3 linked regions of the Homo sapiens genome follow. The protein of the gene in region 2 interacts with the protein of the main gene of each other region in a pairwise test. Each region holds a gene or a part of one and is shown on either strand. Other genes may lie near its edges. The genes, in order: CLK2, LUZP4 and HSF2BP.

What was found.
Region 1: the proteins of LUZP4 (region 2) and CLK2 interact in binary tests that used the Homo sapiens proteins (3 or more experiments, as listed by UniProt).
Region 3: the proteins of LUZP4 (region 2) and HSF2BP interact in binary tests that used the Homo sapiens proteins (3 or more experiments, as listed by UniProt).

What each region holds. Positions count from the first base shown.
Region 1 is NC_000001.11:155,263,505-155,267,004, forward strand, and holds part of CLK2 (dual specificity protein kinase CLK2), read right to left. Parts: intron 3,392-3,500; coding exon 3,225-3,391; intron 2,451-3,224; coding exon 2,356-2,450; intron 1,271-2,355; coding exon 1,141-1,270; intron 1,047-1,140; coding exon 964-1,046; intron 797-963; coding exon 717-796; intron 537-716; coding exon 446-536; intron 205-445; coding exon of another isoform or gene 175-204; exon of another isoform or gene 152-174; intron 1-151. UniProt on the Homo sapiens protein: Dual specificity kinase acting on both serine/threonine and tyrosine-containing substrates. Phosphorylates serine- and arginine-rich (SR) proteins of the spliceosomal complex.
Region 2 is NC_000023.11:115,288,329-115,292,623, reverse strand, and holds the start of LUZP4 (leucine zipper protein 4), read right to left. Parts: upstream 2,910-4,295; 5' UTR 2,865-2,909; coding exon 2,774-2,864; intron 1-2,773. UniProt on the Homo sapiens protein: Export adapter involved in mRNA nuclear export in cancer cells. Binds and enhances the RNA-binding activity of the nuclear RNA export factor NXF1. Can restore mRNA export function in cells compromised by loss of mRNA export adapters.
Region 3 is NC_000021.9:43,652,968-43,656,685, forward strand, and holds part of HSF2BP (heat shock factor 2-binding protein), read right to left. Parts: coding exon 3,620-3,718; intron 1-3,619. UniProt on the Homo sapiens protein: Meiotic recombination factor component of recombination bridges involved in meiotic double-strand break repair.

The sequences.
Region 1 (3,500 bases), on a different chromosome or scaffold from region 2:
CCAATTTGAAGGCTACCTAACCACGACCACACCAGGACCAACGTTTCTGATATTATAGCTCAACCTACCTTCCCACTAGCACAATTACTCCATAATCTTTGAAAGTTCTTTCTACTTGTATATCCTTGTCAACTTCATGAATCTTCTTTAGTTCCTCATTAAAATGTAAGCTCTTCAAAGGTAGTTTATTCTTTTCTGTCTGACCTAAAGAATCCAGGACATTGCTTTGATCTCTGGTTGTCTCAAGGTTAGGCTGTCTAACCTCCTTCCCTCCACAAAACCACTCCCTCTTATGTTTCCTCTGTTGACCAAAGATGTCTTCTTTCAGCTTTCCTCCCCTCCTTTCCTAACCCTCTGCTTGTGAAGAGCATTCCAGGGGGCAAACCACCCTAAGAAGGAAGTGACTTCTGGACGGTGGGCACTATTTATCCCGAGCCCAGCTCACCCGCAGCGGTTTGCAGTTCTCACGAACATAGCGCCCAGCTGATGTGTTCTCATCCCAATCCAGGCGACCCCGGTAAAAATATTTCTGCTTTCTAGAGGGGAAGGGGAGGTTGAGGAATCAGAAGGTCACCCTTGTTACAATTCCCTTATTTCCCCATCTGAAAGTAACTGGGGGGAGAGGAGGTATCAAAGAAAAAAGAAAATGATGTGAAATAGACCAATTCTGTGGAGAGAAAAGGAAAAGAGTTAACTAGTGCCCCCTCAAGGTTCACCTTGTCTTTCGGATCATCCGGGAAGGGATAGGACCCAAGATCCTTTCCATCATGGCTAGATGCTCTCTGTTGTCATGGGTCTGGGAAACAAAAACAGAACTGAGCATGGGACTGAAAAGGGCATGCTAAGGATCAGCTGCCAGGAAGGCAGGCAATGTGGAGAACTGAGTAGGCAGGTCCTCAGCAGAAAACAAAGGAACCAGGTAGAAGAATGCCAGGCAGTCAAGTAAGACATCCCATCACTTACCTGGAAGAGGGTGAATCCCACATAGTATTCAAAGATGATGCAGCCTATACTCCACACATCACAAGGCTGTGACCAGCCCAACTCTGGGTGAGAATGGGAGGGAAAAGGTGTTATGAGGCTTAGGTGGCCCCACCCTCACATCATCTCACACACTTGGACAGCCTTGCCCTCCCTTACCAAGGATGACTTCTGGTGCTCGGTAATGGCGAGTGGAGACAATGGTGCTATGGTGCTCATGGTCAAAGGTGGCACTGCCAAAGTCTACCACCCGCACAGCTGTGCTCTTCACACTGCGCTCATCTCGCTTCTAGGAGCAGAGGAGAAAGAGGATGAACCTCTGCACCCAGACTGAGATTCCACCAGTATTCTCTACATTGCTTCTGAGCCTTAAAAAAGGTACTGTGATCTCCTGCCTGGCCTTACAAGCCCTGGGAAATTCCTGTTTTACAGCTTCCACCACATCCAGCATAATACTTTTAGAAGTAGGGGAGCAAAAGGATTAAGAAATGATTATAGAACAGCGTGCACATCTGTAAGCATCTGAAGACTACACTCAAGTGCCAGATATATAGTTATTCTGAAAACATGTAACATGTAGCAAATGGGTTTTTCTGAAAAAATGTAACATGTAGCAAATGGGTTTTTCTGAAAAAATGTAACATGTAGCAAAGGAGTTTCTCTAAAAATATGTAACATGTAGCAAAGGGGTCAAAGGAGGGAGAGCTTCTTTAGGTCTGAGATCTCCATTATCTCCAGTTAGTCAAAGGAGCCGAGCTTTCCTACCTCACAGAAATACACATCTCAAAAAAGAAGTCCGGGCCAGGCACTGTGGCTCACACCCGTAATCCCAGCATTCTGGGAGCCCGAGACAGGCAGATCACCTGAGGTTAGGGGTTCGAGACCAGCCTGGCCAACATGGCAAAACCCCATCTCTACTAAAAACACAAAAACTAGCCAGGCGTGGTGGCGGGTGCCTGTAATCCCAGCTACTCCAGAGGCTGAGGCAGGAGAATCACTTAAACCTGGGAGGTAGAGGTTGCAGTGAGCCGAGATTATGCCACTGCACATCAGTCTGGGCAACAGAGTGAGACTCTGTCTCAAATAAATAAATAAATAAATAAATAAATAAATAAATAAAGTCCAAACCAAGAACCTTAAAAACTTTCACTCTACTGGAAAGTTATCTGAAGTCCCCTGTACAAGTTATCTCCCAATTTAAGTCTTCTTAAGAGATTTCTCCCTTTCAACCTATTTAGTTTTACCCAGTTGGAGCCAGACAGGGAGAAAATGTGGGAGGACGAAATAAAAGGGAGAAAACAAAGGGCTCGGCAGAAGGCAAAGTGGTGCAGCTGCCTGCCCCCAGTAACCAAGGGCAGACCCTATCCATCTTACCTTCTCTAGGTTGTAGGTGAGCTCATAGTCTGAATTCACAAACAGAATATTTTCAGGCTTGAGGTCTGTATGTGTCAGCTTGTTATCATGGAGGACTGTAGGGGAGAAGGCCAGGTCAGGCTTGGTGCAGGTGGCCAGAGCTAACTGGTATCAGCTGACCCCAGGCCTGGTTACCTAGGGCAAAGCCAGTGAGGAGACAGGTCCAGAATCACTAGGGCTGCTTTCTGCTCTACGTCTAAATGGAATGCCTGGTCTAAGAAGCTCTGCTCTTTCTAATGTAAGATACATATGTAGCTCAACTGATGTAAAAAAAAAAAAGTTTGCTTTGAGTTGTAGTGTGTACACACTTTGACATGTGTCTAGCTGGCATTATGTTAACTCAATTCTGTGAAACTGTATTATTTTGATGACTCCAGAGGAATGATATATTTCTTTGAATTCCCCACCTTGCCCCTTAGCTGAACTACATACTCTGTGTTCCCATCTCCTTTGCTGTGAATGAACATCTCATCCCAGACAAATGTAAGCCTTTACCCTAAGGAGTGTATTTTTGTCTCTTTATGTTTGCTGTCTGACTGATGCTTTCCCAAGAAAGGGAGAAAGGAAAAGGGGAGGGTAATTAAGTGCTTTGATTCCAAAGGCTTTCTCTTCTAGCTGCTGCTAGGCTAGGTGTAGAGTAAGAGCAATCAGTGACGATAAAGACATCAGTCAAGGAGTTAAGTCAGAAGACGTTTCAAGATGACAGTAAATCAAAGAACTGCAGATAACAGACAGCTGACTGTTTAGGGGCTTCACCAGTGCACAACCGACAGAGAGATCCAATGAAGGGAGGGACTGCCCCAGAGTCCACTTCGGCCCACCCCACTCACACTTGACAGCCTGGCACAGCTGGAAGGCCATGTGGCGCACTTGGTGGATGGGGTAGGGCAGGTAGTTGTTGTCTTTGAGGAAATCGAAGGTGCTAAGGCCCAGAAGCTCAAAGGAGATACACATGTGGCCATGGTAGTCAAACCAGTCAAACATCTGGACACAGAGGCTGAGAAGAGAGATGGGGGAAGGGGGGTTGTCTGATGAGCTCCCATCTGCCCATCAGCCATCCAACAAGGAGGTACTTCATAGCTGTTGATTCCACATACTTGTGTAAA
Region 2 (4,295 bases):
TCAAGAAAAAGAATGAAAGGCAAGCAGATTAGAAAAAAGTAAATCTCTGTTCTCAGATATCATGATCTTGTATGCAGAAATTCCTAAAGATACACACACACACACGGAGATTAGCACTAATGAACACACTCAGCAAGGCTGCAGGATACAAGATCTATATGCAAAAATTAATTCTATGTACATATACCAGCAATGAACTATCCAAAAACGAAATTAAGAAAGCAATTCCACCAAGAAGAGCTTTCAATGGAGGAAAATTAGTCTTTTTAACAAGTAGTGTTGGAACAATTAGACATCAAAATGCAACAGAATGAAGTTGGCTCTTAACTCACCCCATATACAAGAATTAACTCAAAATGGATCACAGATGTAAATTTAAGAGTTAAAACTAGAAAACTCTCAGAAGGAAACAAGGGTATGATCTTCATGATCTTCTAGATTTGACACCAAAGCATGAACAACAACAAAAAACAGATAAATTGTATTTTATCAAATTCTGAAACTTCGGGACTTCAAAGGACACTATAAAGAAAGTTTAGGCCGGGTGAGGTGGCCCACGCCTGTAATCGCAGCACTGTGTGAGGCCGAGGTGGGTGTATCACTTGAGGTCAGGAGTTCCAAGACCAGCCTGACCTCTGCCTCCTGGGATTACAGGCATGAGCCATGGCGCCCCTCTTCATTTCATTACTTTTTTTTTTTTCTGAGATGAAGTCTCACTCTGGCACCCAGGCTGGAGTGCAGTGGGGCGATCTCAACTCACTGCAGCCTCCATCTCCCAGGTTCAAGCAATTCTCCTGCCTCAGCCTCCTGCATAGCTGGGACTACAGGCACGCAACACCATGCCCAGCTAATCTTTGTATTTTTAGTAGAGATGGGGTTTCACCATGTTGGCCAGGCTGGTCTCGAACTCCTGGCCTCAAGTGAGCCACCCACCTCAACCTCCCAAAGTGCTGGGATTACATGAATGAGCCACCAAGCCCAGCTGACCCTCTTCATTTCTATGGTACACTCTCCCTCCACTTATCCTGCCCCTTTTAAAGTTCAGCCCTCCCTGCTCTGCTCCCCTACCCTCATCTCTAAGGTGAACCCTCTTTCCACTGCTCCATCAATTTCTGAGGTCCACCCTCCTTGTTCCTGCTTCTCCTTGCTCCACTCCTGCGCTTCCACATTGAAGCTCAGCTCCCACTGCTCTGCCTCTCCCCCTCTCATTTCTAAAGTGGCCCTTGGCCAGGCGCAGTGGCTCAGGCCCACAATCCCATCATTTTGGGAGGCCGAGCCGGGAGGATTGCTTGAGGCCAGGAGTTCGAGACCAGCCTGGGCAACATAAGGAGACCCAATCTCTACAAAAATTTAAAAATTAGGTGGGCATGGTAGTGAGCACCTGTGGTTCCAGCTACTCGAGAGGCTGAGGTGGTAGGATCACTTGATTGAGCCTGAGAGCTTGAGGCCACAGTGAGCCGTGATCGTGCCACTACACTCCAACCCAGACAACAGTCCCTGACCTTATCTCAAAAATAACTAACTAGGCCGGGGGCGGTGGCTTATGCCTGTAATCCCAGGACTTTGGGAGGCCGAGAAGGGCGGATCACTTGAGACCAGGAGACCAGTCTGGGCAACATGGTGAAACCTCGCTCTACTAAAAAACAAAACAAAACAAAACAAAAAAACAAAAACCTAGACAGGTGTGGTGGCGCGTGCCTGTAGTCCCAGCTACTCTGTCGACTGAGGTGGGAGGATCGCTTGACCCCAGGGGGCGGAGGCTGCACTGAGCCAAGATGATGCCACTGCACACCTGCCTGAGAAACAGAGCAAGCACGTTTCACACACACACACACACCCCTAACTAAAGTAGCCCTTTTCTGTTTTGTCCTCCTTCCCCCATTTCTACAGTTTCCTTCTTCCGTGCTCTGATGCCCTTCTCCATTTCTAAAGTCAGCTTCCATCCTCTCTACTCAGCTCTGCTCACTCCCTATCTGGCTTGGAAAGTCTATTCCCTCCCCTCCTCCCCCATTTCTAAGATGGATAATAGCAGAGGAACTGGTCCAAGTAAAATCCACTTTTTCTGGGTTTGGTGCGAATGGAGGAGGTTAGGGGCCTTGATAAAGGAGTTCTTTTTTCTAAGGTTCCACTCTCCGTGTAGAGGTCTCAGGTTAGAGACTAGAGAGCGCCAGCAAAGAAAGGCTATCCAGAGCGAATAACCACCAGCCAACAAGCAAATAAATGGACCAACCACCCCTTCGAATAACCACCAGCCAACAAAGCAGATACACCAACCCACCAACAACTCCTAGCACTACCACGCCGGGATCCCTAGTAAAATAGCCTAAGGCTTGCTCCTCCGGGCCCTGGAATCTAGTGATTTATGACATCCGCTTGGACTGAGAAGAGCACTTGGCTCCATGTGTTTGAAGGAGGCCAGTAGTTAGGTATCAATTCTTAGGAGAGTAAAATACACGTTAATAGCGGTCTATTTTCTCCGCCTGCCCCTTTCAGCAATCCTTAATCCCCACGCGCTTCTGGTCAGCCTCCCTCAGTTCCCCACCTGAAAGGAGAGGGCTGGAGGTGAGGAGAAAAAGAGGAGAGGAGGGATAGGGGCCAAGTGGTCCCAGGGTTCGTCAGGGTGGGGCAGGTGCGGAGATGCCCTGAAGGGGAAGCCTCTCCTCGAACTGGTGTGTTCCTCCCGACGCCACTTCTAGTAAGCGCTATGCCGAGGTCTTGCGCTCAAGACCAGTGAGCCCAAACTAGTGGAGACTGGGATCCGAGATCTACATACCTAGAGACATATCTAGGAAGTTAACCTTTTTCCGACTGGGATGATTTGGCGGCACTTTTTCAGAAAGCGTTAGCTTCCGAAACGAAGCCATCTTCCCTGCATCATGGCGCCACACACTCCGAGGTAGGGCGCGTGTACCACCCCCTCACCGCGCAGGAGGAGCAGAGTGGTGGACTAACCTGATCCTCCAATCATAGCCTCTCCCTTCGGTGTTGCTAAGCCCCAAGGGGTGGAGCTTGGCGTTACCCCTCACCAAGTCTCCTATCAGGAGCTTGGCTCGCTAGAAGAAAAAAAAAGGAAAGACCCGCCCATCTCCCACCCGATACCCCTTTCTAAAAATATTCTCTCCACCTAGAGCACTATGTAGTTGGCTACAAGTTTCTAGTGTATGTGGTGTTCCGGCCCTTGCCTTTCACAGTTCCTAGGACCCATTTCTCCTCTTTGCTGTTGACATTCATGGCGAATAAAACCTTATAATCTTGACTTAATGGGCTGATGCTCTGCTTCTCTCAAATTCCAAGAGGGAGCACAAATTTAACATCTAGGGAGGATTCACAGGTTTGCAATGCCACACGCTTTCTTTTCTGTCTTTCTTTTCGTTTTTGTTTTTTGTTTTTTGTTTTTTTGAGACACAGTATCTCTTTGTCACCCAGGCTGGCGTGAAGTGGCGCCAACTCCGTTCACTGCAACCTCCGCCTCTGGGGTTCAAGCGATTCTCCCACGTCAGCCTCCCAAGTAGCTGAGATTACAGGAGCGCGCCACCACGCCTGGCTAATTTTTGTGTTTTTAGTAGAGATAGGGTTTCACCATGTTGGCCAGGCTGGTCTCCTGGGCTCAAGTGATCTACCCGTCTGTGCTACCCTCATACCACAGCGCCCACACTTTCCCTCCCTCCCTCTGTCCCTCCCTTCCTTCTTTCCTTCCTTCCTTCCTCCCTCCCTCCCTTCCTCCCTCCCACCCTCTCTTTCTTCTTCCTAACTTCTTTCTTTCCATCTGCCTTGGCATCCCTCCCTCACCGCACCTGGTTATTTCTTTTCCTTCCTTCCTTTCTTCCTTTCTTTCTTTTCTTTCTCTTTCTTTTCTTTCTTTCTTTCTTTTTCTCTTTCTTTCTTTTCCCTTTCTTTCTTTTTTTCTTTCTTTCTCTCTCTCTTTCTTCCTTCCTTCCTCTCTTTCTTTTCCTTCCTTCCTTCCTCCCTCCCTCCCTCCCTTCCTTCCTTCTTCCTAACTTCTCTCTTTCCACCCGCCTCGGCCTTCCTCCCTCACCACACCCGGCTATTCCCTTCCCTTCCCTCCCCTCCCCTCCCCTCCCCTTCCCTTCCCTTCTCTCCCTTGCTTCCTTGCTTCCTTCCTTCCTTTTTTCCTTCCTTCCTTCCTTTCTTTTTCTTTCTTTTCTTTCTTTTCTTTTTTCTTTCTTTCCTCGATCTGTTGCCAAGGTTGGCATGCCTTAACCTCCCAGGCTCCTCTTGGGCTGTAGAGATGGGGATCTCACCATGTTGGCCAAGCTGATCTCAAACTCCTGGCC
Region 3 (3,718 bases), on a different chromosome or scaffold from region 2:
CTAACTAAAAATACAAAAATTAGCTGGCGTGGTGGCACACACCTGTAATCCCAGCTACTCGGGAGACTGAGGCAAGAGAATCGCTTGAACCCAGGGGGCAGAGGTTGCAGGGTTGCAGTGAGCTGAGATCATGCCACTGCACTCAAGCCTGGGCAACAGAGTGAGACTCGGAAGAAAGAGAGAAAGAGAGACACAGAGAGAGAGAGAGAGAGAAAAGGGAAAGGAAGGGAAGGGGAAGGGAAGGGAAGGGGAAGGGAAGGGAAGGGGAAGGGAAGGGGAGGGGAGGGGAGGGAAGGGAAGGGAGAAGGAAGGAAGAGAGAGAGAGAAAGAAAGAAGGGCATGCAGAGACAGTAGGGTGCTCCCTCAAGACCGAATAATCAGCCAGGGAGATAATGACAGACAAAATCAGGGGCCGAGATAATGACAGATAAAATCAGGGGCCCTGCACTCCCAACAGCTTATAAAGTAAAATGGAAATAAAACCATGTGTCTGAAGGAAGCATAGGGTACCATGACAACATTTCAAAGGAAGATTGATCATGTCGAGGTAGTCAGATTAGGCAGTGACTCTGAGCCGGGGCTGTGCCCAATAATATAAAGCCTTTTAAGCCGTAGTATGGTTTTGCTTAGGTTTTTGGATGATAATGAGTCTGGGTGGGGTTTTTAGGTTTTTGCTCTTTATCCTAAAAACAAAGAGAAGCGTCTGAAGACTTACGCAGGTGAATGGCATCATCAGATTGAACTGCCACAAACTACTCAGGCTACAGTGTGTCTGAGGGACTGGAGAGTGGCAGTGAGGAGACCGCCAGGAGGAGGCAGAACACAGCAGTGGAGACAGACGCAGGCTGATGATTCAGGATGCATCCATGAAGTAACACTCACAAGACTTACTAGCGGACAGGTTTCATGCGGAGTAGTGAGGAAGAGAGACAGGTAACAAGGAAGACTCCTGGGTCTCTAGTCTGGGTGTTGGTGCTCTGGGGAGACTGAGGCAGGCCAGTGTAAGACAGGGGCAGGGAACAGATAGCATGAGGCAGATATGACAACAGGAAGTAAAAATCAGCTTGCACCGAGAAAGCAAAAGTCTGTCCTGACTTCTGTCAGGCTGGAATAACAAACACAGATAAAGTCAGGTGCCAAGTTAACAGAAAATATCTCTCAAAGACAATGCAACTGTAAAGTGTCATAATGACCTCTTCTTTGAGTGACTGCTAACTTCTTATTCACTGAGAAGCCTTATTCTGTAAAATCCCAGACTCGCACAAATTTTGTTCTTTGAAATTATACAAGTAAGAAGATCCCACTCTTGCCTGCAGGATCTAAGTCACTGTGACACAGAAAAGAACCCTATTTCCAGCTACTGCAGAGCTTCAAGTAAGGGATTTCTAGAACAATGTTCCACGTCTATTTGAACGTTGTAGTTTTCAAGGAAACGGGACCTGGGTCCGCTTCGCAGTCAGACTTAATATTGGTCCCTTTAGACACAGTTCTATTTTGCTTCATTTATGCTTCACCTAATACCACTCTGTCTCCAAGTCCTACAACAACTCTATCCTCTTTTTTGTTGACATGCCCCACAGTTTCTCGGTGTTCTGGTATGGTCTTCCTCACTGCAAAGAGCCATAAACCTCACTCTGTCAGACTGTGGGTCTGTTCCTGGCGACCTTAGACTGATTAGGCTAGGGCAGACATTTAGAATTTGAAATAATCATGAAACAAGCAGGAAGAAATGCCAAGTCGGAGTCAGGCACAAGGCCGTGAGCTTGGAGAGTTCTGGGCTAGAGAGTAAATCCAGCAGCCACTGGCATCAAGACGGTAACTGAAGCTGTGAGTGTGCATGAGACTGCCTAGGGAGAAGCCATGGGGTGAGGCAATGAGCGGGGCCTAGGCCTGAGTCTCAAGCCCTATTGGAAGGCTGCAAAGCAGAGAAGGATAAATTTCAGCAAAGGGGAATAAGCAGGAATTGCCAGAGAGACTATGGGGAAAAAGGTGACTCTATAGCCTGGGAAAGGCCGGGACTATGAGATAAGATCTCCCAAAGGCAGACTGTGATCAAGTGACCACAGATTTGTTTGTGGCCCTCACTCGGTTTGATTTTGGCAGCGGGACTGATCACTAAAGACACTCATGTTAACTAACTCATGAGACCCTGATGTATTTTTTAGAATGCCAGTTTATTAATTTACAGTGAGAATATAACCAACCAGCAGGCTGCCATACGCTGCTACTGGTGTATGCCTATTTACCTTCCTTTCCTGAAGATAAATGCACAAGGAATGACTAATCTCAGAAAGTTGCTGGATGAGCATGAAATCAAAACTAGAGAAATTAGAAGTCAATGACCTGGCATTCTGGCAACCAATGACACGCCATGTATCTGGCAGAGTCCCAGTGGGAAAGAGAAATCAACCCAGATGTTGAGACTTTTCTGAAGGGACCACTTACAGAGGGGAGAGCAGAGATAACAGAACCACCAAGGGACAGCGAGGTACCCAGGGACTAGCAACAGCCCTACAGCCACAGGAGCAGGGGCAGTCCAGCAAGAGCTAGGACTACGGAAGAGGCCTCTAGACAGGAGTCTCTGTTGTGGAGGGATGCAGCTACTGCCACAAAACAGCAGCAAAGCAGGGAGGGAGCAGGAAGAAACACCCCAACCTCTCTCTCCACCCAGCAATGCCTTCCATTGGTGAGCCCCACTGGCAGCCAGCAAGGGAACCAGGAGAGCCCCATCTGTAGGGATCTACCTCCCAGAGCACACCACAGGGCAGAGAAGACTGGATCCAAGGACTTCGGAGAGAATATAAACAGGACAAGGTACGGTGGATGAGAACTGTCCCTTCTAACTGGATGTGGCTGGCCCACTGACCAGATACGTTTGCACATGCCAGAAACTCATATTCTCGGGGTGAGCTATCTTCTTGTCTGGACAAGTGCTACAGCTACCTGGGCCCCCTGGATGCACCTTTTCTAGAGGGCACACAGGGAGGGATAACAACCAAATGTCATGCAGTAAATTGGCCTTTACCGTCAAAGGCTGATTTAATCATGATTTGGCCTCAATCAAGCAAGTGCTGAGACAATCTCAGAGTATGTCCAGGAACTTCAATAGGCTCCTAAACTGGTATTCAACATAACAGCTCAGCTCAAATCTCAAAAGTCTGAATGGACACCAGAAAGCCTAAACTTCAATCAGTTCTAGATACTGGCTCACCCATCCACCTAAAGATAAGTGAACACACTTCCAGCTATCTCTACTGACAAGTAAACTCCATGCAAGGTTTCCATTTGGCAAGATCCTTAACTTACACAGTAAGTACTTAATTTTCAGAATAGAGCTTTTCAGTTATCAAAAGTATAAAATTCTTCTGCCAATGAAGAGAGAGAGAAAGAGAAGCTGTTAATAGATGCTCAGAAAACTGGCAACCAACTTATACCAACTTACATATGTCCAAGTCACTACACTGAGGAAACCTCCCTTTCTTAGGTCATCAGACTCTCCCAAATATCATCACAAGGACTGTAAGAGTACCTTAAAATTCGTTTACAATTATTTACCTAGGGTAAATCTGCTAGAACAAATTACTGTTACCACCAATGACTGCTGAAAATGAAGACTCACTTTTTTCTACAATCTTTAATTTCTGGAAGCTCTCCAGCACCTCCCCATTTAGTATTCTGGGTAAGAAGTCCCGTATTTGCATCACTTCAGTTGTCAGCC